Linked DNA regions of Homo sapiens: region 2 is linked to region 1. The links come from fine-mapping of genetic effects on gene expression. A gene starts in region 1. The other region holds a variant in brackets. All regions are shown on one strand. Distances are between the middles of the regions.

Region 1 (15,972 bases):
TAAGTTTTCAGAAATCTTGGCTGTTTCTTCAGAAGCTGAAACTTTTTAATCTCTCAAAACAGCTAGTGTTAAAAACAAGTCCCCACCCCAAAATTATGCTATAAATTAGAACTTGGAGATAGAATCATTGGTACTCAGTTCTCTTTCCTAGTATCCTAAGCATCAACATGGTAAAAAGTAGAAGGTGCCCAATTCAAGGTATATAACCTTTAAGCAGCTTTAACACAAGAGAAACCAAGATTAGTAGCTGCCACCCATGGGGATCTTTCAAGACTGGTGGGGAAGTTTCCCGGAGTGGGGGCAGGTAGAAGACTGGTTAGGCTGGGAACCCGCGAAGTCTGTTGGAAAGTGCCTGTCACTTGCCAATGGACGGCGCCAGCTGCCCCTTGTTATCCGGCGATCAGGGACTGGGGACGGGGCCCGAGCGCCCCTCGCCAGGCCAGCCGCACCTGTGGCCATGTCAGGGGCGCCGATGGCAAGGAAAGGGCGAGCACCGGCTTCAGCTCCGAAACTTGGCTTCCCCGGGCCGCGACCCCAACCCGCAGCCCCTCACGCAGGCCCGGGCCCAGCGGCCTCCTTCGGAGGAAGGGCGGAGACCGTACTCACTGAGGGGCGGCCGGCCGCAGGGAGGAGGGAGGCCGAATCTCCCGGCCCGGGCGCTTCAAGCTGGAGCTAGCGCAGGCCCGCAGCCGTCCTCCCCGGCCCGGCGGCTCGGTCCCCGCCAGCCAGCCCGCCGGCTACCCGCCGGCCGCCTTGCGGGCCTCGCGCCCCTGCCCACCCCCTGCGGGCGCCCCGGCGCCCGCGCTCACGCACGCGACCCCGGGAGCAATGCGCCCGCGCCCCTTCTACACCCGGGAGCACCGGGCGCGCGGTGCCCCGGACCCAGCCGCCACCGCCGCCGACCCTTACTCGGTGCCTCCGCCGCTCGGCGGCCCTTTGCCTCGGCCGCCGCTCCCCTCCCCGCTGCCCGCACCGGTCCCAGCGCCGCTCCCCGCAGCCTTCGCTCTCGCGCCCCCACCCCGACCGGCTTGGGCTGTCTCTCTTCAGCCGCCGTAACTGCAGCCCGGCCCTCCGCCCCTCCTCTTCGGCCCCCTCCCCCTTAATAACTCCCTCCACGCACCCTGGCCCCGGCGCCGCCTTCCCCGCCGCGCGCCCGGATGTGAGGTGGCTGCAGCGGTGCCGGGCGAAAAAGAAGCATCGCCGCGCGCTTCCCGGACGCCAGCCCCTGCGCGGGCCGGGGGGTGGGAAGGTGGTGGCGGCGAGGAGGAGGCCACGGTGGGGATAGCGGAAACCCGCTCCCGTGCGCGCAGGCGGTCGCCGTGGGCAGCCCAGAGGCCACCGCCGCCGCGTTCCCACGCGCGCTGCAGGGCAGAGCGGACGGCACTTGGGACCCGCGACTCGCGGCACGCCACTCTCCCGGAGGCGGTGGCTAGATGGGGCTGGGCTGGCGGCTAGCACGGCCTGTGGCGCGACGACCGCTGTATTTGCATGGTTCGCATAGGCAGAGAACCGTGGGGCTTCGGCAGTGGGAATTTGAGATAGGAGATTGGGGTCTTCCGAGCCTTCCCAGTGCGGGTTCGAACCTCAGCTGTTTTGCGAGTGGCGTGATCTTAGGCAAAGCTGACTTAACCTAAGTTTCGGTCGTGTTTCTAAAATGGCCTCTGTAAATCTATGAGGCTTATGCGCGAGTACTGGTTGCTGCATTAAAAGACAAACTTGTCACGATTGGCTTTGATAGCGATAAAGGCGACTAACAAATTCATTGAAATGTTGTTTCCCTCCGGTAACCTGAATCTGTCCTTAGCCTGCACAGAAAGGGGAAGTGCGAGTGGAGTTGGGGAAATGAGACGGCGAATGTCAAGTGCTTACCACGTAGTGCAGACTCAGGCTGACAGGGGGCCACAGAAATGCAAATATGTGAGCAGTGTGGGTAACTGCATCCTGGGGAGGAAGTCCTATGTGCTGGAATACCACAAGCACCCATTTCTGCCCTGTGGTACTGCGCAGCGTTGGTGTGAAGCGATACATAGGCGTGAAGTCCCGAGAACGCAATTTTCCTGGTTAAAGGACAGCAACGTCTACATTTCTTCCAAGAGGCCTACTTTGTTGGAACTTCACTTCACTTGTGAAATTAGGGTGTTGGGCAGTGAGTGACCACTAACTCAGCTCCCTTCTTGTGAATCTTGGCAACAGAAAACTTTTCGTTTGTATTACTGAATAAAGTGTGTTTCTTACAAACTGTTTTTTTACAGGCAAGAGGCAGAGGGAAACACTTGCACATCAGGCCTGAGTTTGCATTCTCATCTCTGCCACCTCCTACAAGCTATGGAGAGTTAGTCTATTGATTCTTAGTTTTACCTGTGAAATTGCGAAGATGATATAACCTGCTCATGGGGCAGTTAAGATTAAACAGGATAAGGTGGGTAAAAAACCATATATAACCCATAAAGCTGCTGAGCCTTTTTAAGCCTATACAGAGACACGTTGCAGGTGATAATACAGATGTTATTATTTTAACAATCAAGCTGTTTTTGGAATCCAAATTCTTCCTAAAGCTGTGGGAAACAGGTCTAATCCCCTTTAGTGTCTTGGAGACTCCCTGGAGTAGTGGAGAAGGCCCGTTCTTTGAAGCTGCTAAATCCTGACCCTGCCAATTAGTGTGAAACCTGAGCCAGGCATTTCACCACCTGGATCTCCCTTTCCTCATTTTTCCGAAAGGGATCGCAGTATACCTACTTTTTAGGCTTGCAGAGGGAATTAAAGATAACATTAAAAACACTGCTCTGGTTATTTTATTTTGGGGGTGATGAAGTCTTGCTCTGTCATCCAGGCTGGAAAGCAATGGCACAATCATAGCTCACTGCTCCAGCCTCAGCCTCCCAAATAGCTGGGACTACAGGCTCCTGCCACTACAGCAGGCTAATTTTTAACGATTTTTTGCAGAGACGGGATCTTGCTATGTTGCTCAGGCTGGTCTCAAATTCCTGGCCTCAAGTGATCCTCCTGCCTCAGCCTCCAAAAGCACTGGGATTACAGGCATGAGCCACCACACCTGAGCTTTCTTGAAAAAGAAAATACTAGAAACCCGGAAATTATGGATTTCTGGTTACCTACTGTTACGTAACAAACCACCCCAGAATTCCAATTATATTTTGCTCTCAAATCTGCAAAATGGGCTGGTTCCTGCTGGGACGGCTGGTTTCTGATCCATTCAGCACCAGTGGGGGCAGCCCAAAGGCTGGGGCTGAGGGTCCCGTAAAAGCGTACATGTCTGGTGGTTGATGGTGGCTGTCAGCTAGGACCTGGGACCATTAGAGCTGTCCCTGGAACACTTACACATGGCCTCTCCCTGTGTCTGAGCTTCCTTGAAATATCAGGGCTGGATTCTAAGGGCAAGTGTTCAGAGAGCGAACAAGAAAGCCATATAGTTGCTGTATTGCCTTTCCTAACCTAGCCCTGGAATCAGTTCTACCACGTGCCACATTCTGTTCCTTAGAAAGGAGTCAGCACGGCTACCCTATATTCAAAGCAAAGGAACTTAGACTCCACCTCTATGTGGGAGGAATGTCAAGGAATGTGTAGGCATGTTTTAAACCACCACAAGCCATACATGATATCAGTGCCCAGGGCATTGTAGCTATCATGATTTGATAGCTGGAACTAATTTCCTGAGCCCTCTGGTCTATCCTACTTAGGACCTACTTTTCCACTAGGCTCCTTTAATGTCTTGTAGAACTTTGGCCTCAACTCATTTCTTACCTCTCAAAGTCTCACTCTGTCCTTATAGAAGAAGATGGTTATTACCTAGGAAAAAAGGTAATAATCTAAGGGAGGCTTCCCTAAACTTCTTTCACCTGTGCCTGGCAAAAGCTAGATGCTTACAAATTGCAAATTCTTGTTTCATTGTAGTTTTTGAGTGTTACTCTCCTTGGCAGGATAATTTTTATTTTTATTTTTTATTTTTTGAGAAGGAGTCTCGCTGTATCGCCCAGGCTGGAGTGCAATGGTGTGATCTTGGTTCACTGCAACCTCTGCCTCCCAGGTTCAAGTGATTCTCCTGCCTCAGCCTCCTGAGTAGCTGGGATTACAGGCGCATGCCACCACGCCCAGCTAATTTTTGTATTTTTAGTAGAGACAGGATTTCACCATGTTGGTCAGGCTGGTCTCAAACTCCTGACCTCATGATCCGCCCACCTCGGCCTCCCAAAGTGCTGGGATTACAGGCATGAGCTACCACGCCCGGCCTGATAATTTGTAATTTTTTTTTGAGACGGAGTCTCGCTCTGTCGTCCAGGCTGGAGTGCAGTAGCGTAATCTCGGCTCACTGCAAGCTCTGCCCCCTGGGTTCAGGCCATTCTGCCTCAGCCTCCCGAGTAGCTGGGACTACAGGCGCCCGCCACCACGCCCGGCTAAATTTTTTATTTTTAGTAGAGACAGGGTTTCACCACGTTAGCCAGGATGGTCTCGATCTCCTGACTTCATGATCCACCCGCCTTGGCCTCCCAAAGTGTTGTGATTACAGGTGTGAGCCACCGCGCCTGGCCTATAACTTGTAATTTTTTGAGACCAAGTTTTGCTCTGTCGCCCAGGCTAGAGTGCAGTGGCACAATCGGCTCACTCAACCTCTGCCTCCTGAGTTCAAGCAATTCTCATGCCTCAGCCTCCCAAGAAGCTGGGACTACAGGCCTGTGCCACCACACCTGGCTAACTTTTGTATTTTTAGTAGAGATGGGGTTTCACCATGTTGGCCAGGCTGGTCTGAACTCCTGACCTCACGTGATCCCCCAACCTTGGGTTCCGAAAGTGCTGGGTGTGAGCCATCGTGCCAGGCCAATAATTTGTAATTCTAAATGCCCCCTTCTGCAACTAATAACCAATTTTCAAGTATCAGCTTGGGAAAGCTCTTTGAGAGAGAAATTATTCTAGTTCTTTACTAAATATGTGTAAGATCTTGGTTTAGGTCTAAATTGTTGGCCCAAAGTTTGGCATAAGGGGTCTCAAAGGTTCAGTCAGTCGGGGAAATTAGCAGTCCAAGAACAGCAGAGAAGCAAATGAAAATACCAGAAACTGGCCGGACATGGTGGCTCATGCCTGTGATCCTAGCACTTTGGGAGGCTAAGGTGGGAGGATCACTTGAGATCAGGAATTCTAGACCAGCCTGGCCAACGTGACCAAACCCCGTCTCTACTAAAAATACAAAATTAGCTGGGCGTGGTAGCATATGCCTGTAATCCCAGCTACTTGGGTGGCTGAGCTAGGAAAATTGCTTGAACCTGAGAGGCGGAGGTTGCAGTGAGCCGAGATCGCGCCACTGCACTCCAGCCTGGGTGACAAAAGTGAAACTGTCTCAAAAAAAAAAAAAAAAGAAAAAAGAAAATACTAGAAACCCAGAAATTATGAGAGCACCTGTGAGAGAGTTTAATGCCAGGCCATGACCTTTCAGCAGCCTCATCACAGAAGGCTGGATTGCACCTCTCTAAATGGGCTTTTTCCTACTCAGTTTTTCTTGCTCCAAGAGTAACCCTTAGATTTTTTTTTTTTTCGAGACAGAGTCTCGCTCTGTCACCCAGGCTGGAGTGCAGTGGCAGGATCTTGGCTTACTGCAACCGCCCCCACCAGGTTCAAGCGATTCTCCTGCCCCAACCCCCCGAGTAGCCGGGATTACAGGCTCGTGACTCCACGCCTGGCTAATTTTTCTATTTTTAGTAGTAGAGATGGGGTTTCACCGTGTTGGCCAGGCTGGTCTCAAACTCCTGACCTCAAGTGATCACCCACCTTGGCCTCTCAAAGTGCTGGGATTATAGGCGTGAGCCACCGCGCCTGGTCAAATTTTTTATATTTTGTAGAGATGGGCACTATGTTGCCCAGGCTGTTCTTGAACTACTGGGCTCAGGCAATTCTCCTGGCTCAGCCTTCCAAAATGCTCAGATTACAGGTGTGAGCCACCGTGCCCAGCCTCTAAGATGTCCTTGTCCTAGCTATTATTATGTACTATTATCTTCTAATCTTTCCCAACAGGACTATTTTCATTGTAACTCAAATGGAAATGCCTTTCATCCCTCCTAAATTTGTCAAAGCTGAGGATGGTAAATGCACATAACAGGAAGAAAGCATTAGGAAATTAGCTCAAATCATCTAGAAAGAAGTGCTTATTGACTTATCCTAAATATATAATTTATATAAATTTACATAATTACATAAAAGTACTTAGGCTAAATTACAGTAAATATATTTTTGTTATACTGTTAATTACAACCTTGAAGCTTACTAAATTATTTTAAAACTACTTGGCCACATTAAGTTCAGATAAAAGTTGTCCCTAAAACATTAGCATTGATGTCCGCTAAAGTAGAACTCCCTTTAAATTATTATTATTATTATTATTGAGACAGTTTTGCTCTTGTTGCCCAGGCAAATGCAAATACACGATCTCGGCCCACTGCAACATTTGCCTCCTGGGTTCAAGCGATTCTCCTGCCTCAGCCTCCCCAGTAGCTGGGATTACAGGTGCCCACTACCACCCCCGGCTAATTTTTTAAATTTTATTTTTAGTAGAGACGAGGTTTCACCATATAAAACATAATTTAGGGCCAGGCGCGGTGGCTCATGCCTGTAATCACAGCACTTTGGGAGGCCGAGGCGGGCGGATCATCTGAGGTCAGGAGTTCGAGACACACCTGGCCAACATGGTAAAAACCGTCTCTATCAAAAAAACAAAAAAAAATTAGCCGGGCGTGGTGGCGTGCGCCTGGGAGGCTGAGGCAGGAGAAACACTTGAACCCGGGAGGTGGAGGTGGAAGTGAGCCCAGATCACGCCACTGCACTGCAGCCTGGGCTACAGAGGGAGACTCCTTCTCAAAAAATAAATAATAAATGTTTTAATTGCAAAAATTAGCATGTAGAAAATAGGGCAAAAATACAAATTGTCTGTGATGCTAAGCCCGAGACACCCAACAAGTTAATTTTCCTGTTTTTAGCGTAAAATCTTTCAAATAAATAACTACTGCTTTTAGTCTCTGCACCAGGAATCTCACGTGCTTTCAAATGTTTTACAAAGCACGTAAAAAAGTATTTGAAAAGTCCCACTTACCCCTCCCACTCCTATTTTTAAGATTATTAGGATCGGCCCAAATTTAAAAATTTAACAAAAAGAGTGCTTATTAATTACATTTTAAAATGAAGGGTTACAAAAAGAGATGAGCCTGGCATTTCTAATTCGGGGGCCTTGGGACCTCTCCCCTCCAAGTGCAAGTTGTAGCAACCTGCCGGGTCCACGCATGGGCGGGTCATACTCCACGGGTTCCGGTTTCCACTCCCTGTGAACCAAAAGCCAGAGAGGCCCACGCACGAGTCCGGAAGTGAGGGAGGGAGGACTTTCGTACGCAGCCGCCTCCCAGCTGGAACCTCATCTTTAGTGCTCGGCCGCGGGCGGCGTAACTCGGGGTTCCGCCTCGGAATACCTCCCACTTCTCTTGTCTAAGAGGAGCAGTAGCAAGCTGAGCTCAGAGCGAAGCTGGCGAGCCAAGGAGATAAAGAACCCTCGGTGGGGATGCCCAGAGGGTGCATGCTCCACGCCCCTCGAAACCGATTCTCATTGCTGCTGCTGCAAAGCAACCCGAAGTGCGCCACCTACCCGACTGAGGCTGCGCAAGCCCCGGGGTCTGGGCGGGGTGGTCCTCGTGCGCGCCGCGTCGCCGTGGAGACGAGGGCGGGCCCGCGCGAGACTGGCGTCTAGAGGCGCGCGAAGCGCTGAGGCGGGCGTGGACCGCGCGGGAGTTAAGAAGCAGGTCCCGGATCGCCGTATACCGCCGGGTTTTCTCCCAACGTCAGGCCCGATGGCTCGGCTTCCCCAGGTACGAGGCCCGGCCCTAACGTCCCCACCCTCTTCTGGGCTCGGCCTTTCCGGCAGTGAGCCCGGCAAGGACCTCAGTCGGGTTCCTCCGAGCCCGGTGAAATCTGTCCGAGCCTCCGCTTCCTCCCCTGAAAGTGCAGGTGATGTTGTCTACCTGCGGGTCTGTGGTGCGGGAATGGAGGAAGTGCGACAAGAGGGCGCAGGACGGGGCCCGGAGCCTGCCATCCTCTCCCGCCGCGTCTTCTCGGCTTCTTGTCTTCCGCCCTGGGGGCACCGCATCCTCCCAGGCGTCTAGTGCGCTCCTGGCCGGTGCTCGAGTCCACGCAATGCCCCTTAGCGTGCGCGGATCCAAATCAGGGGTTTCCTCCTCCCGGCTCCGTGGCCCAGGAGCGGAAGGGCTGGTATATGGGCGACCTTACTCCCACTGAGCCCGCAGGGAGTAACGCAGTAAACAAACCTGGAAGCCTTCCCCGCGTGGGAGGTGGGTACCTGTTTTTATGGGAGGCTGTTCAGGTTTCTTAACTGCTGTGTAGATGTGTTGTAAATATTTGTTGAATGAATGATGTGAGGGACTTGAGTACAGCCATACCTCGCTTTATTGCACTTCACAGATACCGTGTTTTTTACAAATTGAAAGTTTGTAGCAAGCAGCCCTGCACCGAGCAACTATTTTTTCAACAGCATGTGCCCACTTCCTGTCACTTACACTTTGGTAACTATCGCTATATTTCAAACTTTTTATTTCAGGTGCACCGTTACAGTGATCTGTGATCAGTGATCTTTGATGTTGTTATTGCAATTGTTTTAGGTGGCCACGAACCTCACTGGTATAAGACAGCAAACTTAAGTGTTGTGTCTGACTGCTCCACTACCTGCCAGTTCCCTGTTTCTCTCCTCCCTCTCGGTCCTCCTTGTAGCCTGAGAGGCAACAATATTGAAATTAGGCCAATTAATAGCCCCACAGTGGCCCCTAAGTGTTCAGTGAAAGGAAGAGTTCCATGTCTCTCACTTTATATCAAAAGCTAGAAATGACGAAGCTAGAAATGACGAAGCTAGAAATGCCTATGCTCTGTAAATGCAACAACAAACCCAGGATGACCACACATCTCTTTACTGAATGTCTTTACATCATATTTACAGTGTGGTTTACTGAATATTTTAAGCCTACTATCGAGACCTACTGTTCAGAAAAAAGGATTCCTTTCAAGATATTACTGGTCATTAACAAGGCACCTGGTCACCAAGGAACTCTGATGAAGATGTACAAAGAGATTAATGTTACTTTACATGTCTGCTAACACAGTATGCATTCTATAGCCCATGGTTCAAGGAGTAATTTTGACTTTCAAGTCATTATTTAAGAAATACATTTTGTGGGCTGGGCATGGTGGCTCATGCCTGTAATCCCAGCACTTTGGGAGGCCGAGGCGGGTGGATCACGAGGTCAGGAGTTTGAGACCAGCCTGGCCAACATAGTGAAACCCCGTCTCAACTAAAAAATACAAAATATTAGCCGGATGTGGTGGCGGGCACCCATAATCCCAGCTACTGGGGAGGCTGAGGCAGGAGAATCACTTGAACCCGGGAGGCGGAGCTTGCAGTGAGCCAAGATTGCGCCATTGCACTCCAGCCTGGGCGACAGAGTGATGAGACTCCATATCAAAAAAATATATATATATTTTGTGACCCCATAGCTGCCATAGGTAGTGATTCCTCTGATGGATCTGGGCAAAGTAAATTGAAAATGTTCTGGAAAGGATTTCTAGGTGCCATTAAGAACATTCATGATTTGTGGGAAGGGGTTAAAATATCAATTCCAGCCTGGCCAACTTGAAGAAACCCTGTGTCTACTAAAAATACAAAAATTAGCTGGGTGTGGTGGTGGGCGCCTGTAATCCCAGTTACTCAGGAGGCTGAGGCATGAGAATTGCTTGAACCCAGGAGGCAGAGGTTGCAGTGAGCCAAGACTGCACCACTGCACTCCAGCCTGGGCGACAGAGCAAGACTCCGTCTAAAAAAAAAAAAAATCATTAAAAGGAGTTTGAAAAAGTTGAGTCAGGCCGCCATGGATAACTGAGAGACTCAAGACCCGAGTGGAGGAAGTAACTGCAGATATGATAGAAAAATCAAGCAAACTGGAATTAGAAGGGGAGCCTAAAAATGTGACCAATTGCTGCAACCTCATGATAAAACTTGGATGGATGAGGAGTGGCTTCTTTTTTTCTTTTTTTTTTTTTTTGAGATGGAGTTTCACTCTTATTGCCCAGGCTGGAGTGCATGGCACACTCTTGACCTCCTGACCTCATGTGATCCACCTGCTTCGGCCTCCCAAAGTGCTGGGATTACAGACCTGAGCCACTACATGCCCGGCTTTGTTTTTACTTTTGTTTTCAGACAGGGTCTTGTTCTGTTGTCCAGGCTGGAGTGCAGTGGTGATCATGGCTCATTGCAGACTTGAACTTCTAGGCGAAAGTGATCCTCCTGCCTTAGCCTCCTGCCTCCTCAGTACCTGGGTGTGTAATACCATGCCTCGCTAATTTTTTTTTTGAGATGAGGGTCTTGTTAGTTGAGCAGGCTGGTCTTGAACTCCTGGTCTCAAGCAGTCCTCCTGCCTTGGCCTCCCAAAGTGCTCACCACAACCTCCGCCTCCCGGGTTCAAGTGATTCTTCTGCCTCAGCCTCCCGAGTAGCTGGGATTACAGGCATGTGTCACCACGCCTGGCTAATTTTTTGTATTTTTAGTAGAGACAGGGTTTCACTGTGTTAGCCAGGATGGTCTCCATCTCTCAGCCTCCCAAAGTGCTGGGATTACAGGTGTGAATCACCGTGCCTGGTGAAAGTGGTTTCTTGAGTTGAAATCTACACCTGGTGAAGATGCTGTGAACATTGTTGAAATGACAGCAAAGGATTTAGAGTATTACATAAACTTAGTTGACAAAGCAGTGGTAGGATTTAAGAGGATTGACTTCAATTTGAAAGATGTTCTACTGTGGGTAAAATGCTATTAAATAGCATTACATGCTATAGAGAAATCTTTGATGAAAGGAAGAGAGTCCATCGATGTGACACACATCACTATTGTCTTATTTTAAGAAATTGTCATAGCACTTTGGGAGGCTGAGGCGGGCGGATTACCTGAGGTCAGGAGTTCGAGACCAGTCTGGCCAACATGGTGAAACCCCGTCTCTACTAAAAATACAAATATTACCAGGCACGGTGGTATGCGCCTGTAGTCCCAGCTACTCCAGAGGCTGAGGCAGGAGAATCGCTTGAACCCAGGAGGCGGAGGTTGCAGTGAGCATTGCAACCACTGTGCTCCAGCCTGGGCGACAGAGTGAGACTCCATCTTAAAAAAAAAAAAAAAAAAACATTGAAAATGCCACAGTTGCCGGATGCAGTATAATCCTGCATTACAGGCTCATGCCTGTAATCCTAGCACTTTGGGTGGCTGAGGTGGGCGATCACTTGAGGTCAGTAGTTCAAGACCAGCCTGGCCAACATGGTGAAACCCTGACTCTACTAAGAATATAAAAGCCAGTTGTGGTGGCGGGCACCTGTAATCCCCACTATTTGGGAGGCTGAGGCAGGAGAATCGCTTGAACCCGGGAGCTGAGATCGCACCACAGAGTGAGACTCTGTCTCAAAAAAAAAAAAAAAAAAAGAAAAAATAAATTGCCATAGCCATTCCAACCTTCAGCAATCACTACCCTGATCAGTCAGCAGCTATTAACATGGAGGCAAGACCCTCTACTGGCAAAAATATTACAACTCACTGAAGAATCAGATAATTGTTAGCATTTTTTAGCAATAAGGTGTTTTTATTTATTTTTATTTTTATTTTTGAGACAGTTTCATCTCATCACCCACGGTGGAATGCATTGGCATGATCTTGGCTCACTGCAACCTCTGCCTCCTGGGTTCAAGCGATTCTCCTGCCTCAGCCTCCTGAGTAGCTGGAATTACAGGCACCTGCCACTACACCCAGCTAATTTTGTGTTTTTAGTAGAGACAGGGTTTTGCCATGTTGGCCAGGCTGGTCTCAAATTCCTGATCTCAGGTGATTCTCCCGCCTGGGCCTCCCAAAGTGCTGGGATTACAGGCGTGAGCCATTGTGCCTGCCCAATAAAGTGGTGTTTTTGTGTGTGTGTGTTTGTTTTGTTTTTGTTTTTTGTTTTTTTTTTTGAGTCTGAGTGTTGCTCTGTCACCCAGGCTGGAATGCAATGGCGTGATCTCGGCTTGCTACAACCTCCGTCTCCCAGGTTCAAGCAATTCTCCTGCCTCAGCCTCCTGAGTAGCTGGGATTACAGGTGCCCACCACCACCACCAGCTAATTTTTGTATTTTTAGTAGAACGGGGTTTCACCATATTGGCCAGGCTGGTCTCGAACTCCTGACCCCGTGACCCACCCACCTTGGCCTCCCAAAGTGCTGAGATTACAGGTGTGAGCCACTGTGCCCGGCCAAATATTTTTAAATTAAGGTATGTACATTAGTTTTTTAGACAATGCTATTGCACACTTAACTACAAGTGTAGACATAACTTTTTTTTTTTTTTGAGACGGAGTGTAGCTCTGTTGCCCAGGCTGGAGTGCAGTGGCGTGATCTTGGCTCACTGCAAGTTCTGCCTCCTGGGTTCACGCCATTCTCCTCCCTCAGCCTCCCGAGTAGCTGGGACTACAGGCGCCCGCCACCACGCCCGGCTAATTTTTTGTATTTTTAGTAGAGACGGGGTTTCACTGTGCTAGCCAGGATGGTCTCGATCTCCTGACCTCATGACCGCCCATCTCGGCCTCCCAAAGTGCTGGGATTACAGGCGTGAGTCACCGTGCCCAGCTGACATAACTTTTATATGAACTGGGAAATCAAAAAATTCATGTGACTGGCTTTATTTATGTGGTCTGCAGCTGAACTCTCAGTATCTCTGAGGTCTGCCTGTACTAGTCCCAGTTCCGCCACTTGTTAGCTGGGAACCTTGAGCCCTCCAGCTGTAAAATGAAGTTGATAACCACTTGCTGAGGTAGTTATATTAAAGTAGGTAGTTCATGAAAAGTGCTTAGCACTAATGCGTAGCAGAGTACCTTATCTATAGATGTTATTTTGATTATAGTCTATACATTTTTGATTGTGTGGTACTCTCAACATTTTGTTAAAACATAACATTGATAAGAAAAAATTGATTCTGGATGGGTCCACTGTCTGTCTGTAGTTGGCACATTCCTCATGCCTATGTGGGTTTTTGCCGGATGCTCTGATTTCCTCCCATGTCCCCACGATAAGCACATTAGCTTCATTGACATGTCTAAATGATCCTAGTGTCAGTGAGTGTGTGTGTGAGTGTGCAATGCCATGAATGGCTTCCTGTCCAGGGTGGCATCCCCCCTTGTGCCCTGAGCTGCCAGGATACACTCTAGCCAACCTTGACCCTGAACTGGAATAAGTGGGTAAATAATTATCTTACTTGTTCTTATGAATCTTCTGTACATATATGTATAGCTCACATTTATTTCAGTGTTTAATATTAAAAGGGTTTGGATCTTTATTTAGAAGTTTGGTGATGTTTTCTGACCAGAAATATGTTACAGGAACTTAAATCTTGTTTGTATCAACTACCTTTTATGGTAAAATTGGTCTCCTTATACATCATTTTGCTTAAAGTTGCCGTTTCCAAGAACCTATCAATGACATTAAGTGAGGACTTACTGTACTTAGTTCTAGATGAGGCTGGATGATATTCAGGTTCAATTTTTTTTTTTTTTTGAGATGGAGTTTCACGCTTGTCACCCAGGCTGGAGTGTAATGGCGTGATCTCGGCTCCTGCAGCCTCCACCTCCTGGGTTCAAGCGATTCTCCTGCCTCAGCCTCCCAAGTAGCTGGGATTACAGGCACCTGCCACCATGCCCGGCTAATTTTTGTATTTTTATTAGAGACGGGGTTTCACCATGTTGTCCAGGCTGGTCTTGAACTCCTGACCTTAGGTGATCCACCTGCCTCGGCCTCCTGAAGTCGTGGGATTACAGGCGTGAGCCACTGCGCCCGGCCAGGTTCAATTTTTTAGCAAGATTTCATCATGGGTGGTAGCACTTCATCAGTGCTTTGTTGGGTTTATTTTGGTCTCTTTTTTATTTGTTGGAGGTCTTTTCTAAATGTTTTATGATTCTCAATTGTCTGTTTATACTTAAGTGTAACTGAGAGATTATGGCCGAGCGTGGTGGGTCCCACCTGTAATCCCAGCACTTTGGGAGGCTGAGGCGGGCAGATCACTTGAGGTCAGGAATTCAAGACCAGTCTAGCTTAGCCAGGTGTGATGGTACTCAGGAGGCTGAGACAGAAGAATCGCTTGAACCCAGGAGGCAGAGTTTGCAGTGAGCCGAGATTGAGCCACTGCACTGCAGCCTGGGCAACAAAGCGAGACTCTGTCTCAAAAAAAAAAAAAAAAAAAGGTGTAACTGAGAAATTAGTTGGAAGCTCCTTGTGTCTGAGCAGGACTTGTGAGTTCAGGGGCTTCACTTTAGGGTAATCTAGGGACAAGTCTGCTTTTTCATTGATGGAGAGTAAGGCACAGGTCTCAGAATCTGGAGATGTGTTAGTTTTTATTGTTTTCTGAGAAGACTTTTCCAGTCTCCTGCCTGAGAGGTACCATCTAGCTACCAGAATTTTGGAAGCGGGACAGCAGAAGTGGCGTGAATACCCTGTCTGACAGGGTTGGAATTCTGTGTGGTCCACTTTCCTTTGGTATCCACTCTGAAGTTTTTCATTTCCTCAAACCTGTTAGGCCACTTCATTTTCCTTTCTTGTAAAACCTGTGGAAATCCCTCATGTCCTATAATCGCTTCTGTCATCTCTTTAACCTTATGGTTCGTTCCTTTGTATTCTTTGCTGCCACCTTAGAAGGTCAATCTACATGTTTAACTGGGAGTCAACACCTAATAATTTTTGTTTTTCTTGGACTGTTTTTTTTTTTTTTTTTTTTGAGATGGAGTTTCGCTCTTGTTGCCCAGGCTGGAGTACAGTGGTGCGATCTTGGCTCACTGCAACCTCCGCCTCCTAGGTACAAGTGATTCTCTTGTTTCAGCCTCCCAAGTAGCTCGGATTACAGGCATTCGCCACCATGCCAATTTTTTTTTTTTTTTTTTAAGTAGAGACAGGGTTTCACCACGTTAGTCAGGCTGGTGGCGACCTCCTGACCTCAGGTGATCCACCTGCTTCGGCCTCCCAAAGTTCTAGGATTACAGGCATGCGCCACTGTCCTCGGCCATGTTTTGTATTTGATTATCATTATATTCATTATATTCCAACTTATAAGCAAGTTTATATTCATACATGTCCTTATTGAAAGCAAACCTGTGTCCTAGTTTTTCCAGTATATGTGTATTTTATCTGTGAGGTTACAGACGTTGTTTTAGAGGCTGGAGATAGAATGGAGAGAAGATCAGATGTGATTCCTGTTTCCATGGAATTTATATTTTAGTGGGGAAGGCAGACATGTACAAATAGGTAGAATGCTGGTATAGAGTATATAACAGAAGGGAGTCCTTGACCATGAAGGACATTCCACAGGATCATTATGACAGAAACCCAAGGCGGTGACACATTGATTATAGCAGTATTTCACGAAAAATCACTATTTGAATACTCCATTTGATTTATTTATAGAAATAATCACTTATGATGACCTCTGTTACTTGGAGTGTAGTATCAGAAAAACTAGGACATCGGTTTGATGTAAGTAAGGATTATTCGTTTTGTATGGATAAACTGGCTAATTCCTTGTCTGATTGTCATTGAAATATGTGACCTTGATTATAAGGGTGACTTCATTCTTTTAGAATGAAACAACTTGTAAATGCATCACCGTTACTCAACACAGGATGTGTTCACCCTGTTAGCTTGCCTCCACCATTTACTTAAATCTTACTCTTCTGTCTTACTACTTGTATTAGTTTCCTAGGGCTGCTGTAACAAAGTACCACAAACCGGGTGGCTTAAAACTAATAGAAGTTTATTCTTTCACAGTTTTAGAGGCTAGAAGTCTGAAATCAAGGTGTCATCCTCTCCCTGAAGGCTCAGGGGAGAATCTGTTCCATGCCTTTCTCTTAGCTTCTGATGTTGCCAGCAATCTTTG
Region 2 (15,972 bases), 97 kb after region 1:
TACCCGTACCTCCATCTTCTGTTGGAGTCTAACAGGTGAATCTTTAGATTCACCTGTTAGCTAGTTCCCTATAGTTTGGGGATAGAATCCAAATTTTTAGCAAGGCCTACAAACTCCTTCGGGAGCTGGTCCCTGTCTGTTTCTCTCCCCTTTCCTGTTACCACTCTGTTCCTTCACAACTGCACTCTGACCAGTTAAGCTGCCAGTGGTTCCCTAAAGGTCCTCTGTGCCCTCCTGCTTCTCTTTGTACCTCCAGTTCTCTATTTCACACTCCCTTCCAGCTCAGATGTCACCTCCTCCCCCAGGCCAGTCCACCTCCACCCCTACCCCAGAGGCATAGCTTTATCAGAACATTCATCTTATAGTTGTTCACTGGCTTCTCTTTCCCCACAGGCTGTGAAGTCCTTTAGAGTACAGCCTGTCCCTTTTGCCTCCTTAGCCCACAGTGCTTGGCATGGGATATGTGCTAATATTTGGATGAATTAATGCACAGACCAACAAATGAACTGCTGTTGATTTCTTCAGAGTTTTTTTCCAAGGATGATCTAAGTCGATAGAGCTTGGATGCTACAGGGCATGGCCTCTTTTTGCGTCACTCTTGCCTCCTACACTTAAGAAATGCTAGAGTCACTGCATTCTTTGACATGCCTTTGGATTATGTTACTGGCTTTGAAAAGACATTGCCACTTGTTATCTTAAGTTCATGTAATACAAGTTCACCAGAATGCAGGAAAGCCTTTCAGAAAAAGACTATGAGTGTCAGAGTTGAAAGGTTGTATTTATTCAAGGTGGAGAGCAGAGGGTCTCTTTTATTTCCTTCCTGGAAAACGAGCACTCCCCTTGACACAGGGGCCCAACACTGGCGGACAGTCCAGGGTCAGCGTTTTCATCTCTCACACTGATCTAGCACGGCCTGCTTTCAAAGGTATAGCGGGTCTGAAAAATGGGAAGAGCACTGCTTAGTCATTCCTAAACCTTTAGCTAACAATCTGAATATCACCTCTTGGTATAGGTATCCCAGGAGCACATCAGATCTTTCTATTCTTAGACAAGATAAAAATATTATTTTTTGTGGGTTTCTTCCTTTTTAAAAAGTAACATACAGTCAGCCCTCTGTATCTGTGGGTTCCACATCCATAGATTCAACCAACCATGGATAAAAAATATTCAGAGGAAAAAAAGAGTAGTTGTGTCTGTACTGAACATATTCAGACCTTTTTTTCTTGTCATTAGCCCCTAAACAATATATAAACAATATAGCATAACAACTATGTACATAGCATTGACATTGTATTGGGTATTATGAGTAATCTAGAGATGCATACAGGAGGACTGTGTAGGTTATATGCAGATGCCAATTTATTTGTTTTGTTTTGTTTTTGAGACAGGTTTCACTTTGTCACCCAGGCTGGAGTACAGTGGCATGATCTTGGCTCACTGCAGCCTCACTCTCCCCAGGCTCAAGCGATTCTCCTGCCTCAGCCTCCCAAGTAGCTGGGACTACAGGTGCAAGCCACCACGCCCAGCTAATGTTTGTGTTTTGTTTTTTTTTTTGTAGAGGTGGGGTGCCACCATGTTACCCAGGCTGGTCTCAAACTCCCAAGCTCTGCCTGCCTCAGCATCCCAAAGTGCTGGGATTACAGGCATGAGCCACTGCACCCGGCCTGCTATACCATTTTATATAAGATACTTGAGTATCCATGGATTTTGGTATCTGAGAGGGGCCCTGGAACCAGTCCCCCACAAATACCAAAGGATGGCTCTTTGCAGAATGGCGAATGTTTGCTAACTGTTGAAGCTTGATGGTAGGGTCATGGGTATTCATTATACTGTCGGCTTCTACTTTTGTTTACATTTGAAAATGCCCATAATAAAAAATAGAAAAGCAATGTGTAGATATTATAGAAAATTTAGGAAGTATAAAAAGATATAAAGAAGAAAAAATAAAACCATTCATGACATTTGATGGGTAAGCCTGGTATCTCTCTTCCTCTGTTTGGGTAGGAGTGTATGTACCTATCTATTCACATACACATACATATGCATACTGATCCAATTATCTATTGCTATGTAAAAAATCACCCCAAACTCAGTGGTATAAGACAACAACCATTCTATTATGCTTTATGGATTATCAAAGATTGAGACAGGACTTAATGGGAATGGTTGGTTTCTGCTCCAAGATCAGCCTCAACTGAAAAGATTCTAATGGCAAGGGGTTAGAATTATCTAGACGTTTTCTTCACACACATCTAGATCCTGGATTAGAATGACTCAAAGACTGGGCTCAACTGGGAATGTTAACCAAAGAACCTGTGTATGACCTCTCTGTGAGGCTTGGGCTTCCTTACAGCATGGTGGCCTTGGGGTAGTCAGCTATCAGAGCTTCAAAATGAGTGTTCCAGTGAACAAGTCAGAAGCTCTGTGGCTCTTTGTATAGCCTCAGAACTCACACAGTGCCACTTTTACCATGTGCTATTGGTCAGAGCAGTCACTATCCCAGCCAGATTCAAGGGGAGGGAACATAGATCACTTCTCAGTGAAGGAGGAGCAAATAATTTGCAGCCATGTTTTTAAAACCTCTACACATTTGGGCTGGGCACGGTGGCTCATGCCTGTAATCCCAGCACTTTGGGAGGCCAAGGCAGGCAGATCGTGAGGTCAAGAGATCAAGACCATTCTGGTCAACATGGTGAAACCCTGTCTCTACTAAAAATACAAAAATTAGCTGGGCGTGGTGGCGCACGCCTGTAGTCCCAGCTACTCGGGAGGCTGAGGCAGGAGAATCACTTGAACCCGGGAGGCGGAGGTTGCAGTGAGCTGAGATTGTGCCACTGCACTCCAGCCTGGCAACAGAGTGAGACTCTGTCTCAAAAAAAAAAAAACAAAAAACAACAAAAAAAACAAAAACATAAAACCTCTATACATGCATATATGCTTTTTCCCCCCAAAGTTTTGGATCATGGAGACATATATGGTATATTCTTATGTCCATTGTCTGTCTTCCTACTGATGTATCAGTAAAATAGTAGACTTTTATAATTACATTAATGTGTATGACAAACACTATAAACAAAATCAAAAGATATATTATGGGGTGGGGAAATATTTAAGATTTATAACACATGACAAAGGACTAATAAATTGTTTAGGTTCAAAAACCCCATACATATCACTGAGTCAAATGCTAACAGACAGTGAAACAGGTAATGGGTATGAACACCTAAGCCAGGGGGAAGAGAGAGTGAGTGAGAGTGTGTGTATGTGTGTGCGTGTGTGTGTGTGTGTGTGTGTGTAGAAATGTTTAACTAATGTTTAAGTGAAAATTTTTTTACCTATCCTATTTCATTTTTCACCTAGCATATTGGCAAAGATAATAAATAATGATTCATCTTTTTCTCATTTTTATTATATAGGAAGCAATCCTCCCACAAGGGTGTGACCCTGAGAGGTCATGTTTAAAAAAAAAAAAGTTAAGTACAAAGGTTATTCATTCTTTTACTTTAGCTGCTACAGGCCAGAGCGGATGGTCATTTCCAGCAGAGAGCCCTGCCTGCTGCCTTCCACACATGGAACAGACTCTGGCGATGGCGCCACCAGGAAAATGTCCTCAGTGCAAGAGCAACACGTTTCCACAGGTATGTTGCGCAGCTCCTGTCTGCACTGGGGCAGGTGTTTCAAATCTAACTCTGACAACCACACAGCCCATTTGCTGTGCTTTTCAGCTTCCCAGACCCCAGGCCCTAGTACTTCCTGGATTTTCAGTAATGTGGGCTCATTGATTTCATCTAGCAGGAAAAGACAAGACAGTGTTTCCCCTGGGAAATCTTTTGTCCATCTTTATTTATTTATTTTTTTTGTGTGTGTGTATATATGTATTTATTAAAAAAAATGTGTAGTGTTTAATCTGAACAGCCAGTGGCTTAGTCAAGTTAACATATACATGAAGAGACTTATTATGAGGAATTGACTTACACTATTATGGAGGCTGAGAAGTTCCATGACCTGCCATCTGCAAGCTGGAGACTCAGGAGAGTGGGTAGTGCAATTCCAGTCTGTGTCCAAAGGCCTGGGAACCAAGGGGCCTCGAGGTGTAAATCCCAGTTGAAGGGCAGGAGAAGATGAGATGAGATCTGCCCACGCAGGCAGGCAGGAAGCAAAAGGGGCAGATTCTTTCTCCTTTTGTTCTACTCAGGCCCTCAAGGGGTTGGCTGAGGCCCCCGTACATTAGGAAGAGAAGTCTGCTCTACTGAGCCCACAGATTCAAATGCTTGTCTCATCTGCAAACACCCAGAAACACTGTTTAATCTGGGCACCCAGTGGCCCAGTCAAGTTGACACATAGAATCCACCACCATGGAGTAGAGAGAAGTCACAGAATCAGACTGCTTGGGTTCAAATCCTGGCTCTGTTCTGTGACCTTGGCCAAGGTACTCAAATGACCAATTCTCTAGTTTTCTCATCTCTGCAGTGGGGGAGTAATAGTGCTTACCTCAAAGGGTTATTCAGATTTTGGTAATTGGCTGTTGAGCTATTCAGATTTTCTAATTCTTATGTCAATTAATCATTTCAAGTTTTTTTTTGAGACAGAGTTTCACTCCTGTTGCCCAGGCTGAAGTGCGGTGGTGTGATCTCAGCTGACTGCAACCGCCGCCTCCCGGGTTCAAGCGATTCTCCTGCCTCAGCCTCCTGAGTAGCTGGAATTACAGGTGCCTGCCACCATGCCCAGCTAATTTTTTGTGTTTTTAGTAGAGACGGGGCTTTCACCATGTCAGCAAGGTCTCGAACTCCTGACCTCAGGTGATCCACCTGCCTGGGCCTCCCAAAGTGCTGGGATTACAGGCGTGAGCCACTGCGCCCGGCCAGCGTTTCAAGTTTTTAAGAGAATGTGTCCATTTCCCCTTCTCTTTTTATTTTATTTTTATTTTTATATATATTTTTAAATTTGAATTGCTTCTCTCTTTTTCTTGATTAGTTTTACTACTGGCTTTTCTATATTCCAACTTTTTTCTTTTTATTTATTTATTTATTTATTTATTTATTTTTTTATTGATAATTCTTGGGTGTTTCTCACAGAGGGGGATTTGGCAGGGTCATGGGACAATAGTGGAGGGAAGGTCAGCAGACAAACAAGTGAACAAAGGTCTCTGGTTTTCTTAGGCAGAGGACCCTGCGGCCTTCCGCAGTGTTTGTGTCCCTGGTTACTTGAGATTAGGGAGTGGTGATGACTCTTAATGAGCATGCTGCCTTCAAGCATCTGTTTAACAAAGCACATCTTGCACCGCCCTTGATCCATTTAACTCTGAGTGGACACAGCACATGTTTCAGAGAGCACAGGGTTGGGGGTAAGGTCACAGATCAACAGGATCCCAAGGCAGAGGAATTTTTCTTAGTGCAGAACAAAATGAAAAGTCTCCCATGTCTACTCCCTTCCACACAGACACGGCAACCATCCGACCTCTCAATCTTTTCCCCACCTTTCCCGCCCTTCCATTCCACAAAGCCGCCATTGTCATCCTGGCCCGTTCTCAATGAGCTATTGGGCACACCTCCCAGACGGGGTGGTGGCCGGGCAGAGGGGCTCCTCACTTCCCAGTAGGGGTGGCCGGGCAGAGGCGCCCCTCACCTCCCGGACGGGGCGGCTGGCCGGGCAGGGGGGCTGACCCCCCCCACCTCCCTCCCGGACGGGGCGGCTGGCCGGGCGGGGGGCTGAACCCCCCACCTCCCTCCCGGACGGGGCGGCTGGCTGGGCAGAGGGGCTCCTCACTTCCCAGTAGGGGTGGCCGGGCAGAGGCGCCCCTCACCTCCCGGACGGGGCGGCTGGCTGGGCGGGGGGGCTGACCCCCCCCACCTCCCTCCCGGACGGGGCGGCTGGCCGGGCAGAGGGGCTCCTCACTTCCCAGTAGGGGCGGCCGGGCAGAGGCGCCCCTCACCTCCCAGACGGGGTGGCTGGCCGGGCAGGGGGGCTGACCCCCCCCACCTCCCTCCCAGACGGGGCGGCTGGCCGGGCAGGGGGCTGACCCCCCCACCTCCCTCCCGGACGGGGCGGCTGGCCGGGCGGGGGGCCGACCCCCTCACCTCCCTCCCGGATGGGGCGGCTGGCCGGGCGGGGGGCCGACCCCCCCACCTCCCTCCCGGACGGGGCGGCTGGCCGGGCAGAGGGGCTCCTCACTTCCCAGTAGGGGCGGCCGGGCAGAGGCGCCCCTCACCTCCCAGACGGGGCGGCTGGCCAGGCGGAGGGCTGACCCCCCCACCTCCCTCCCAGACAGGGCGGCTGGCCGGGCGGGGGGCTGACCCCCCCACCTCCCTCCCGGATGGGGCGGCTGGTTGGGCAGAGGGGCTCCTCACTTCCCAGTAGGGGCGGCCGGGCAGAGGCGCCCCTCACCTCCCAGACGGGGTGGCTGGCCGGGCAGGGGGGCTGACCCCCCCCACCTCCCTCCCGGACGGGGCGGCTGGCCGGGCAGGGGGCTGACCCCCCCACCTCCCTCCCGGACGGGGCGGCTGGCCGGGCGGGGGGCCGACCCCCTCACCTCCCTCCCGGATGGGGCGGCTGGCCGGGCGGGGGGCCGACCCCCCCACCTCCCTCCCGGACGGGGCGGCTGGCCGGGCAGAGGGGCTCCTCACTTCCCAGTAGGGGCGGCCGGGCAGAGGCGCCCCTCACCTCCCAGACGGGGCGGCTGGCCAGGCGGAGGGCTGACCCCCCCACCTCCCTCCCAGACAGGGCGGCTGGCCGGGCGGGGGGCTGACCCCCCCACCTCCCTCCCGGATGGGGCGGCTGGTTGGGCAGAGGGGCTCCTCACTTCCCAGTAGGGGCGGCCGGGCAGAGGCGCCCCTCACCTCCCAGACGGGGCGGCTGGCCGGGGGGAGGGCTGACCCCCCCACCTCCCTCCCGGACGGGGCGGCTGGCCAGGCGGGGGGGCTGACCCCCCCATCTCCCTCCCGGACGGGCTGGCTGGCCGGGCTGAGGGGCTCCTCACTTCCCAGTAGGGGCGGCCGGGCAGAGGCGCCCCTCACCTCCCGGACGGGGCGGCTGGCCGGGCGGGGGGCTGACCCCCCCACCTCCCTCCCGGACGGCACGGCTGGCCAGGTGGGGGGCTGACCCCCCCACCTCCCTCCCGGACGGCACGGCTGGCCGGGCGGGGGGGCTGACCCCCCACCTCCCTCCCGGATGGGGCGGCTGGCCGGGCGGGGGGCTGACCCCCCCCCACCTCCTTCCCGGACGGGGTGGCTGCCGGGCGGAGACGCTCCTCACCTCCCAGATGGGGCGGCTGCCGGGCGGAGGGGCTCCTCACTTCTCAGACGGGGTGGTTGCCAGGCAGAGGGTCTCCTCACTTCTCAGACGGGGCGGCCGGGCAGAGACGCTCCTCACCTCCCAGACGGGGTCTCGGCCGGGCAGAGGCGCTCCTCACATCCCAGATGGGACGGCGGGGCAGAGGCGCTCCCCACATCTCAGACGATGGGCGGCCGGGCAGAGACGCTCCTCACTTCCTAGATGTGATGGCGGCTGGGAAGAGGCGCTCCTCACTTCCTAGATGGGATGGCGGCCGGGTGGAGACGCTCCTCACTTTCCAGACTGGGCAGCCAGGCAGAGGGGCTCCTCACATCCCAGACGATGGGCGGCCAGGCAGAGACACTCCTCACTTCCCAGACGGGGTGGCGGCCGGGCAGAGGCTGCAATCTCGGCACTTTGGGAGGCCAAGGCAGGCGGCTGGGAGGTGTAGGTTGTAGTGAGCCGAGATCACGCCACTGCACTCCAGCCTGGGCACCATTGAGCACTGAGTGAACGAGACTCCGTCTGCAATCCTGGCACCTCGGGAGGCCGAGGTTGGTGGATCACTCGCGGTTAGGGGCTGGAGACCGGCCCGGCCAACACAGCGAAACCCCGTCTCCACCAAAACCAGTCAGGCGTGGCGGCGCGTGCCTGCAATCGCAGGCATTCGGCAGACTGAGGCAGGAGAATCAGGCAGGGAGGTTGCAGTGAGCCGAGATGGCAGCAGTACAGTCCAGCTTCGGCTCCGCATGAGAGGGAGACCATGGGGAGACGGAGACGAGGGAGAGGGAGAGGG[A/AGAGGGG]CAGGGAGAGGGAGAGGGAGAGGGAGGTGTCCATCTTTATTTCAAGGGCTTTCAAAACAGCCTGTTTGTAACCTTCATTATTAGCCACTGAGAGCTCCATTAAAGCAGCCCATTAGCTTTCTGGATCAGAGCACGGTGGGACCTTGCCTCACCTTGGCAGACATTCTTAAGTGTCATTTCCCCGAAACACTTAGTTCCTGTTCTGCTAGACCTGGCTTTTTGAAGTCTTGAAATGATAGTCATCAACAAAATTACAAAGGTCGGGCCGGGTGCAGTGGCTCACACCTGTAATCCCAGCACTTTGGGAGGCCGGAGCGGGCGGATCACAAGGTCAAGAGTTCAAGACCAGCCTGGCCAACATGGTGAAACCCTCTCTTTACTAAAGATACAAAAATTAGCCCGGTCTGGTGGCACATGCCTGTAATCCCAGCTACTCGGGAGGCTGAGGCAGGAGAATTGCTTGAACTTGGGAGATGGAGGTTGCCGTGAGCTGAGATCGCATCATTGCACTCCAGCCTGGGTGACAGGGCGAGACGCCGTCTCAAAAAAAAAAAAAAAGAAAAGAAAAAGGCCGGGCCTGGTGGCTCATGTCTGTAATCCCAGCACTTTGGGAGTCCAAGGCGGGCGGATCACGAGGTCAGGAGATCAAGACCATCCTGGCTAACACGGAGAAACCCTGTCTCTGCTAAAAATACAAAAAATTAGCCGGGCGTGGTGGTGGGCGACTGTAGTCCCAGCTACTCAGGAGGCTGAGGCAGGAGAATGGCATGAACCTGGGAGGCGGAGCTTGCAGTGAGCTGAGATCACACCACTGCACTCTAGCCTGGGCGACAGAGTGAGACTCTGTCTCAAAAAAAAAAAAAAAAAAAAAAATTAGAAAGCTCAAGGAGCAGATCTACATCTTTTTAGTTCCCACAGGGACAAACTTGCCCACAGCAGGTTCTTAGTATATGGTGGGACATAATGAAGAAATAATAATAATTTATTTATTTATTTATTTATTTATTTTTGAGTTGGAGTCTTGTCCTTTCGCCCAGGCTGGCATGCAGTGGCACCATCTTGACTCACGGCAAACTCCACATCCTGGGTTCAAGTAATTCTCCTGCCTCAGCCTCCCAAGTAGCTGGGATTACAGGTGTGCGCCACCACGCCCGGCTAATTTTTTGTATCTTTAGTAGGGACGGGGTTTCACCATGTTGGCCAGGCTGGTCTCGAACTCCTGACCTCGTGATCCACCCGCCTTGGCCTCCCAAAGTGCTGGGATTACAGGCATGAGCCACCACGCCCAGCCTGTAATGAAGAAATTATTAATCACTAACTGTATGTCTGCCACTGTGTTGGGCATTGTGTGATGGGAGACAGAAAACAAATACATAAACTCATTCTGCCCATGGCATCATTATCTTCATTAATAATTTCCTTTTCACAGTGATTCTGAGAGGTCAGGTTCAAAATGATAAATGGTAACACAACCAGTAAGTGGTACAGCCAGGTTAATTCACATCTCCAGTTCCAAAGTCCAGGTGCTTTCTTCTTGATCAAGAGGAAGATCTTTTTGATGACTTTGTAGGAGGGTGAAATTTTTGTGAGGAGATAAGAAACAACTGAGAACCAATTCAAGAGAACAGATCCACGTGTCCCCAGTCATGTCAGCCACAAGTTCTTCCAGTGCTCAGAGCTAGTGCTGAGGGAGACTGAGCATGGAAGTATCTGGGAGAGGCTTCCTGTGAGTGAGAGGGTGAGGATGGTGGCTGGAGTGGGCAAGATGGGGAGGCCCAGACTGAAGAGATTGGGCTGACCCTATAGATAGATATTCGAAAGATATTTGAGCAGGTACATGGAACTAGTAAAATGACAGTTTTGGAAATTACCTTAAGTTCAGTGTACTTTATCTTAGGACAGAGGGGTGAGATGGAGGGGCATGCATTGGGAGAAGTTGCAGTCATCTTTAATCTGGAGGATTTCAGGCCAGGTGTGGCGGCTCATGCCTGTAATCCCAGCACTTTGGGAGGCAGAGGTGGGTGGATCATTGGAGGTCAGGAGTTTCAGACCAGCCTGGCCAACATGGTGAAACCCCATGTCTACTAAAAATACAAAAATTAGCGGGGCGTGGTGGTGCATGCTTATAATCCCAGCTACTCCGGAGGCTGAGGCACAAGAATCACTTTAACCCAGGAGGCAGAGGCTACAGTGAGTTGAGATGGCGCCACTGCACTCCAGCCTTGGATGACAGAGCGAGACTCCATCTCAAAATAAATATCTCTCTCTCTCTCTATCTATCTGTCTATCCATCTGGAGGGCTTTGAATGCTAGTTTGAGGTTAGCCAGAACTCTGGCTTCCTTAGTACGAAGTCCAGGGAGATGGTTTTAGGTGGTGGCCACGGGAAATAGAGGCTGATGAAAGGACATCTCTTGTCTCTTCTGGCTTCTGCAGACAGAGCAGCTTTGCCTTTACCTAGTCATGTATTGTGGGCTGGTATAAGATTCATTCAAAAATGGCTTCAGGCTGGACGCGGTGGCTCACACCTGTAATCCCAGTACTTGGGGAAGCTAAGGCAGGTGGATCACCTGAGGTCAGAAGTTGGAGACCAGTCTGACCAACATGGCAAAACCCCATCTCTACTAAAAATACAAAAATTGGCCAGGCATGGTGGCGCACATCCCAGCTACTCGGGAGGCTGAGGCAGGAGAATCGCTTGAACCTAGGAGGTGGAGATTGCAGTGAGCCGAGATCGCACCACTGCACTCCAGCCTAGGTGACAGAGCAAGATTCCATCTCAAAAAAAAAAAAAAAAAATGGCTTCAGTACTGAAAACACGCACACACAGTACCCGTTTCTAAATGGCTTCAGTACTGAAGACACGCACACACAGTACCCGTTTCTAAATGGCTTCAGTACTGAAGACACGCACACACGGTACCCGTTTCTAAATGGCTTCAGTACTGAAAACGCGCACACACGGTACCCGTTTCTAAATGGCTTCAGTACTGAAGACACGCACACACGGTACCCGTTTCTAAATGGCTTCAGTACTGAAGACACGCACACACAGTACCCGTTTCCAAATGGCTTCAGTACTGAAAACATGCACACACAGTACCCGTTTCTTTTTTTACTGTCAAGTAGCCGTGCTTGGTTCTATTCTTTTTTTGTATTTTGTATGCTGTGAGAACCAAAAATTAAAAGTACCTTCCAAATAGCCAAGAGGAGCCTTTAAAGGATTTTTGCTAGGGAGCAGTTTGGGTGGTTTTAGAGCTATCACTCTGGAGAAAAAGGGCAGAGGGCGACTTGGAGACAGGGTATAGCCAGGAGGCTTGCAGGACGGTGTAGGCCTGATCTAGATTTTTACCTGTTTTGGCTTGGTTGGACCTTTTCAGTAAACTTGGTTTTTTGGATTCCTGTTTTCCTTGTTCATGAGCAGAGTGATTGAGAGTCTGGCTTAGAAGCTGGACAAGCCTGAGTTCAGACCTATGCTCTGTCGCCTGCCAGCTCTGTGACCCTGGACAAGTCAGTCTGTCTCTCTGAGCCTCAGTCTCCTCGAATGTAAAATTGAGATGATGTGGTCATAGTCTCTATCTCATATGGTTGTCATGAAAATGAAATGGGAAAACATGTAAAATGCAAACCAAGGGCCTAGCATAAAAATATGAACTGTCCCTGTGGCCCCTGGAGTTGTTTTAATTTGTGACTCTCATGGTAAGTACATTTTCAGAGGATTGGTTTGGAGTTTAGCAAATTAAAGTTCCAAATAAATATGTATCTTTGATATTCTTAGGGTATTTTTTAATGTTTTAGGAATATAGACAGATTTTATGATGGAATCTCATGAATTATGGCTAAAAATAATTTTTATAACCCTCCAGTGAAAGGTACTGAGAATGAGACAAAATTGGTTTGTCTTTTATTTTAATCGAGATAAAATGTGTATACAGTGAAAGGCATAGATTTTAAATAAAGTTCGATGAGTTTTCATAGGTTTTTTTTTTTTTTGAGACGGAGTCTCGCTCTGTTGCCCAGGCTGGAGTGCAGTGGCGTGATCTTGGCTCACTGCAAGCTCCACCTTCTGGGTTCATGCCATTCTCCTGCCTCAGCCTCCTGAGTAGCTGGGACTACAGGTGCCCACCACCACACCCGGCTAATTTTTTGTATTTTTTTTTTTTTAGTAGAGAAGGGGTTTCACTGTGTTAGCCAGAATGGTCTGGATCTCCTGACCTCATGATCCGCCCGCCTTGGCCTCCCAAAATGCTGGGATTACAGGCGTGAGCCACCATGCCCGGCCGAGTTTTCATAATTTATGCACCTATATAATCAACACTCCAGTCAAGATACAGAACATTTCTGTTACCCCAGAAAGTTCCTTCATGTCCCCTCCAGTCAGTCCCTACCCTGCATAGGTAACCAGTATTCTGATTTCCGTCATCATAGGTTAGTTTTGCATGGTTTTTTTCTTGTCGCCCAGGCTGGAGTGCAGTGGCGCTGTCTCAGCTCACTGCAAGCTCTGCCTCCCAGGTTCATGCCATTCTCCTGCCTCAGCCTCCCGAGTAGCTGGGACTACAGACGCCTGCCACCACGCCCAGCTAATTTTTTGTATTTTTAGTAGAGACGGGGTTTCACTGTTAGCCAGGATGGTCTCGATCTCCTGACCTCGTGATCCGCCCGCCTCGGCCTCCCAGAGTGCTGGGATTACAGGCATAAGCCACTGCGCCTGGCCTTTTTTTTTTTTTTTTTTTTTTTGATGAGCAGAAGTGTTTGAATTCTGTTGGATTGATACAGTCCAGTTTATCTTTTTTTTTTTTTTTTTTTTTTGAGATGGAGTCTTGCTCTGTTGCCCAGGCTGGAGTGCAGTGGCACGATCTCAGCTCACTGCAGCCTCCACCTCCCAGGTTCAAGCAACTCTCCTGCCTCAGCCTCCTGAGTAGCTGGGATTACAAGCGCACACCACCACGACCAGCTAATTTTTGTGTTTTTAGTAGAGACGGGGTTTCACTGTGTTGGTCAGGCTGATCTCGAACTCCTAAGCTTGTGATCCGCCCGCCTCGGCCTCCCAAAGTGCTGGGATTACAGGTGTGAGCCACCGCGCCCGGCCCAATTTATCCTTTTTTTTTATGGTTAGTGATTTTAGGGTCCTCCCTAAGAAATATTTGCTACTCTAAGATCTGAAAATATATTTTCCTATATTTTATCTGGAAGCTTTATAGTTTTAGCATTTACATTTAGGTCAATGATCATCTTGAATTTTTTTTCTACATATGATATGACGTAGGAGTCAAGGTTTATTTTTTTCTGTGTTTATCAGGTTTTTCCAGCACCATTTGTTGAAAAGCCTTTTTTTTTGAGACAGAATCTCGCTCTATTGCCAGGCTGGAGTGCAGTGGCAGTGGCACAATCTCGGCTCACTGCAATCTTCGCCTCCCAGGTTTAAGCGATTCTCCTGCCTCAGCCTCCCAAGTAGCTGGGACTATAGGCACACGCCACCACGCCCAGCTAATTTTTGTATTTTTAGTAGAGACAGGGTTTCACCATGTTGGGTTGGCCAGGATGGTCTCCATCTCTTGACCTCGTGATCCACCTGCCTTGGCCTCCCAAAGTGCTGGGATTACAGGCGTGAGCCACCGTGCCTAGCCCAGACTAATTTTTTTTTCTAATTTTTTGTAGAAAAAGGGTCTCACTATGTCACCCAGTCTGGTCTCAAACTCCTGGGGTCAAGTGATCCTCCTGCCATGGCCTCTCACTGTTCTGGGATTACAGGCGTGAGCCACCATGCCTGGCCCAGTTCTGTTTAGAATTAATATACCATTTCATGTTTAGTGCAAGAACATGAAAACAATAAAATTCTATTTTGTCCCCATCCTTGATGATATTTTTATTGTTGTTATTTTTTTTTTTTTTAAGAAATAAATCATAGTGGGGATTCACTATGTTGTCCAGGCTGGTCTTGAACTTCTGGGCTCAAGACATCCTCCTGCCTCAGCCTTTCAAAGTGCTGGGATTACAGGAGTGAGCCACCACCCCCAACCAGTGGTACTTTTTGTCATACATTTTATGTCTAACGATTGATTGATTGTAGAGACGAGGTCTCACTATGCTGCCCAGGCTGGTTTTGAACTCCTGAGTTCAAGCAATCCTCCTGCCTCAGCCTCCTGAAGTGTTAGGATTACAGGCATGAGCCACCAGGCCCAGCCTACAACGTTACTATTTTTGCTTTAAATAATCAGTACTCTTTTTATAAATTGAGAAGAAAAAAATTCAGCCTCTTATATTTACCCACATATTTTCCCTTTCCAGTGTTCCTTGTGTCTTCCTGTACATTTGAATGTTCATCTGTATCATTTCCCTTCAGCCTAAAGATGATCTTTTAGTGTTTTTATACTAAGGTCAACTGGGGTTGAACGATCTCAGCTTTTGTGTCTGGTCTCTGCCCTCTGGCTGGGCCAGAGCTCCGTCTTTCAACCCTGTCCAGCTTCTGCTGTCTCTGTTCCCCTCTTGGCCCTGCAGCAGTCACTCTCTGCTAGGCCTCCAGGCCCTCATCTGAGGACCTGGGACAACCTCAGTAAAATTTTGGGTATTTCCCTCTGTTCAGCTGTCTCCTTTCTAGTACCCTGACCCCAAATTCCAGCCCCTCTGGCAGTCATGAACTCCAGTCTTTGCCTCCTCAGCTCACTGAGACTGAGGGAGGCTCTGCTTAGCCTCCCTTCCCCTCACTGTTTAGAAGGTGCCCCCAGGCAGAAAGTCTGGGCGGCCTAGGGGCTCACCTCGCCCGTGTCCTATCTTTTCAGCATCAGAATCTACACTTACTGTCCAGCGCCTGAAGACAGTTGCCATATGTATTTTGTCTAGTTTTGTCATATATGGCCAGAGGGCAGATCCAGGACCAGTGACTGTGTTCTGACTAGAAGTGGAATCTTTGCTTTAAGTGATGTGTCTTGCGTGTTAAATGTCAGGGGAGCAAGATCCCCCAGTGCTGAACATGGATCCTGTGGCTTCACCAACATGTAGCCCCTAGTGGCTGTTGGTCAATTGTCCCAGCACTGCTGCTGCAGGATTTGATGTTGTTAATGGTGATCTGTAGGCCTAGGCAGAGATGACAAAACAGTGGTTCCCAAACCTTTTTACTTTTCTTTACTTTTTTTTTTTTTTTTTTTTTTGCAACCTCTGTGGCCCAGGCTGGAGTGCAGTGGCACGATCTCGGCTCACTGCAAGCTCCGCCTCCCGGGTTCATGTCATTCTCCTGCCTCAGCCTCCCAAGTAGCTGGGACTACAGGCGCCCACCACCAGGCCCAGCTAATTTTTTATATTTTTAGTAGAGATGGGGTTTCACCGTGTTAGGCAGGATGGTCTCGATCTCCTGACCTCATGATCCGCCCACCTCGGCCTCCCAAAGTGCTGGGATTACAGGCGTGAGCCACTATGCCCGGCCAACCTTTCTACTTTTCTAATTCACCTGAAATACTTGTTTAAAATACTATTTCCTGGGACCCCCCCTCAGACTTGCTCAGTCAGCCTTAGGGGTCTGCCCCTTGTTTTTCAACAGGTCCCCAAAGCGTTGGTCAGCATGCACTGGAAAGGGCTCTCATGAACAATCCTTTATCAGTGCTGTTAAGTCAATATAGAATTAATGAAGACCTGGGGTCTCAGGGTCTGAGTCTTTTTCGTACGGTGTGAAGGCTTGGCTGATACCAGAAACAACCTGGAAAATGTTGGCCTTTTTAACAGTTTATGGTTTTTTGGCTGTCTGCTTTCCTTCCCTTTCTCTTTGTGTTGCTTTCTCCCTCATCTAAGCTTATTCACCTCTTTTATTTTTTTCAGAGACGGGGTCTCACTCTGTTGCCCAGGCTGGAGTGGAGTGGCGTGATCATAGTTCACCACAGCCTCAAACTCCTGGGCTCAGGCGATCCCCCCACCTCAG

Which allele goes with the higher level. Positions count from the first base shown, and alleles are read on the strand shown. Sizes are in standard deviations (SD) of each study's normalised expression.
In carriers of allele AGAGGGG in region 2, the expression in regulatory T cells of the gene that starts at base 7,752 in region 1 tends to be lower than with A alone (moderate effect, 0.64 SD a copy in Schmiedel 2018).

The links.
Region 2: its variant is fine-mapped to the expression of SFI1 in regulatory T cells (Schmiedel 2018, PIP 0.92).

The regions. Positions count from the first base shown.
Region 1 is chr22:31,488,785-31,504,756 of GRCh38, forward strand. It overlaps SFI1 (SFI1 centrin binding protein), which reads left to right and starts at 7,752. Exons shown (of 33, transcript NM_001007467.3): 1 at 7,752-7,853. EIF4ENIF1 (eukaryotic translation initiation factor 4E nuclear import factor 1) reads right to left here and starts at 1,058. Exons shown (of 19, transcript NM_019843.4): 1 at 910-1,058. RefSeq lists enhancers at 367-990, 991-1,613, 2,013-2,072, 5,510-5,559, 7,834-8,103 and silencers at 443-732, 813-1,462, 7,594-7,813, 8,714-8,773.
Region 2 is chr22:31,585,940-31,601,911 of GRCh38, forward strand. SFI1 (SFI1 centrin binding protein) reads left to right here. Exons shown (of 33, transcript NM_001007467.3): 15 at 3,508-3,638. Among named protein-coding and RNA genes, the nearest start is that of MIR7109, 28 kb to the right of the region's middle. RefSeq lists enhancers at 5,085-5,894, 6,704-7,512. The variant A/AGAGGGG (reference allele first, on the strand shown) is at 8,066.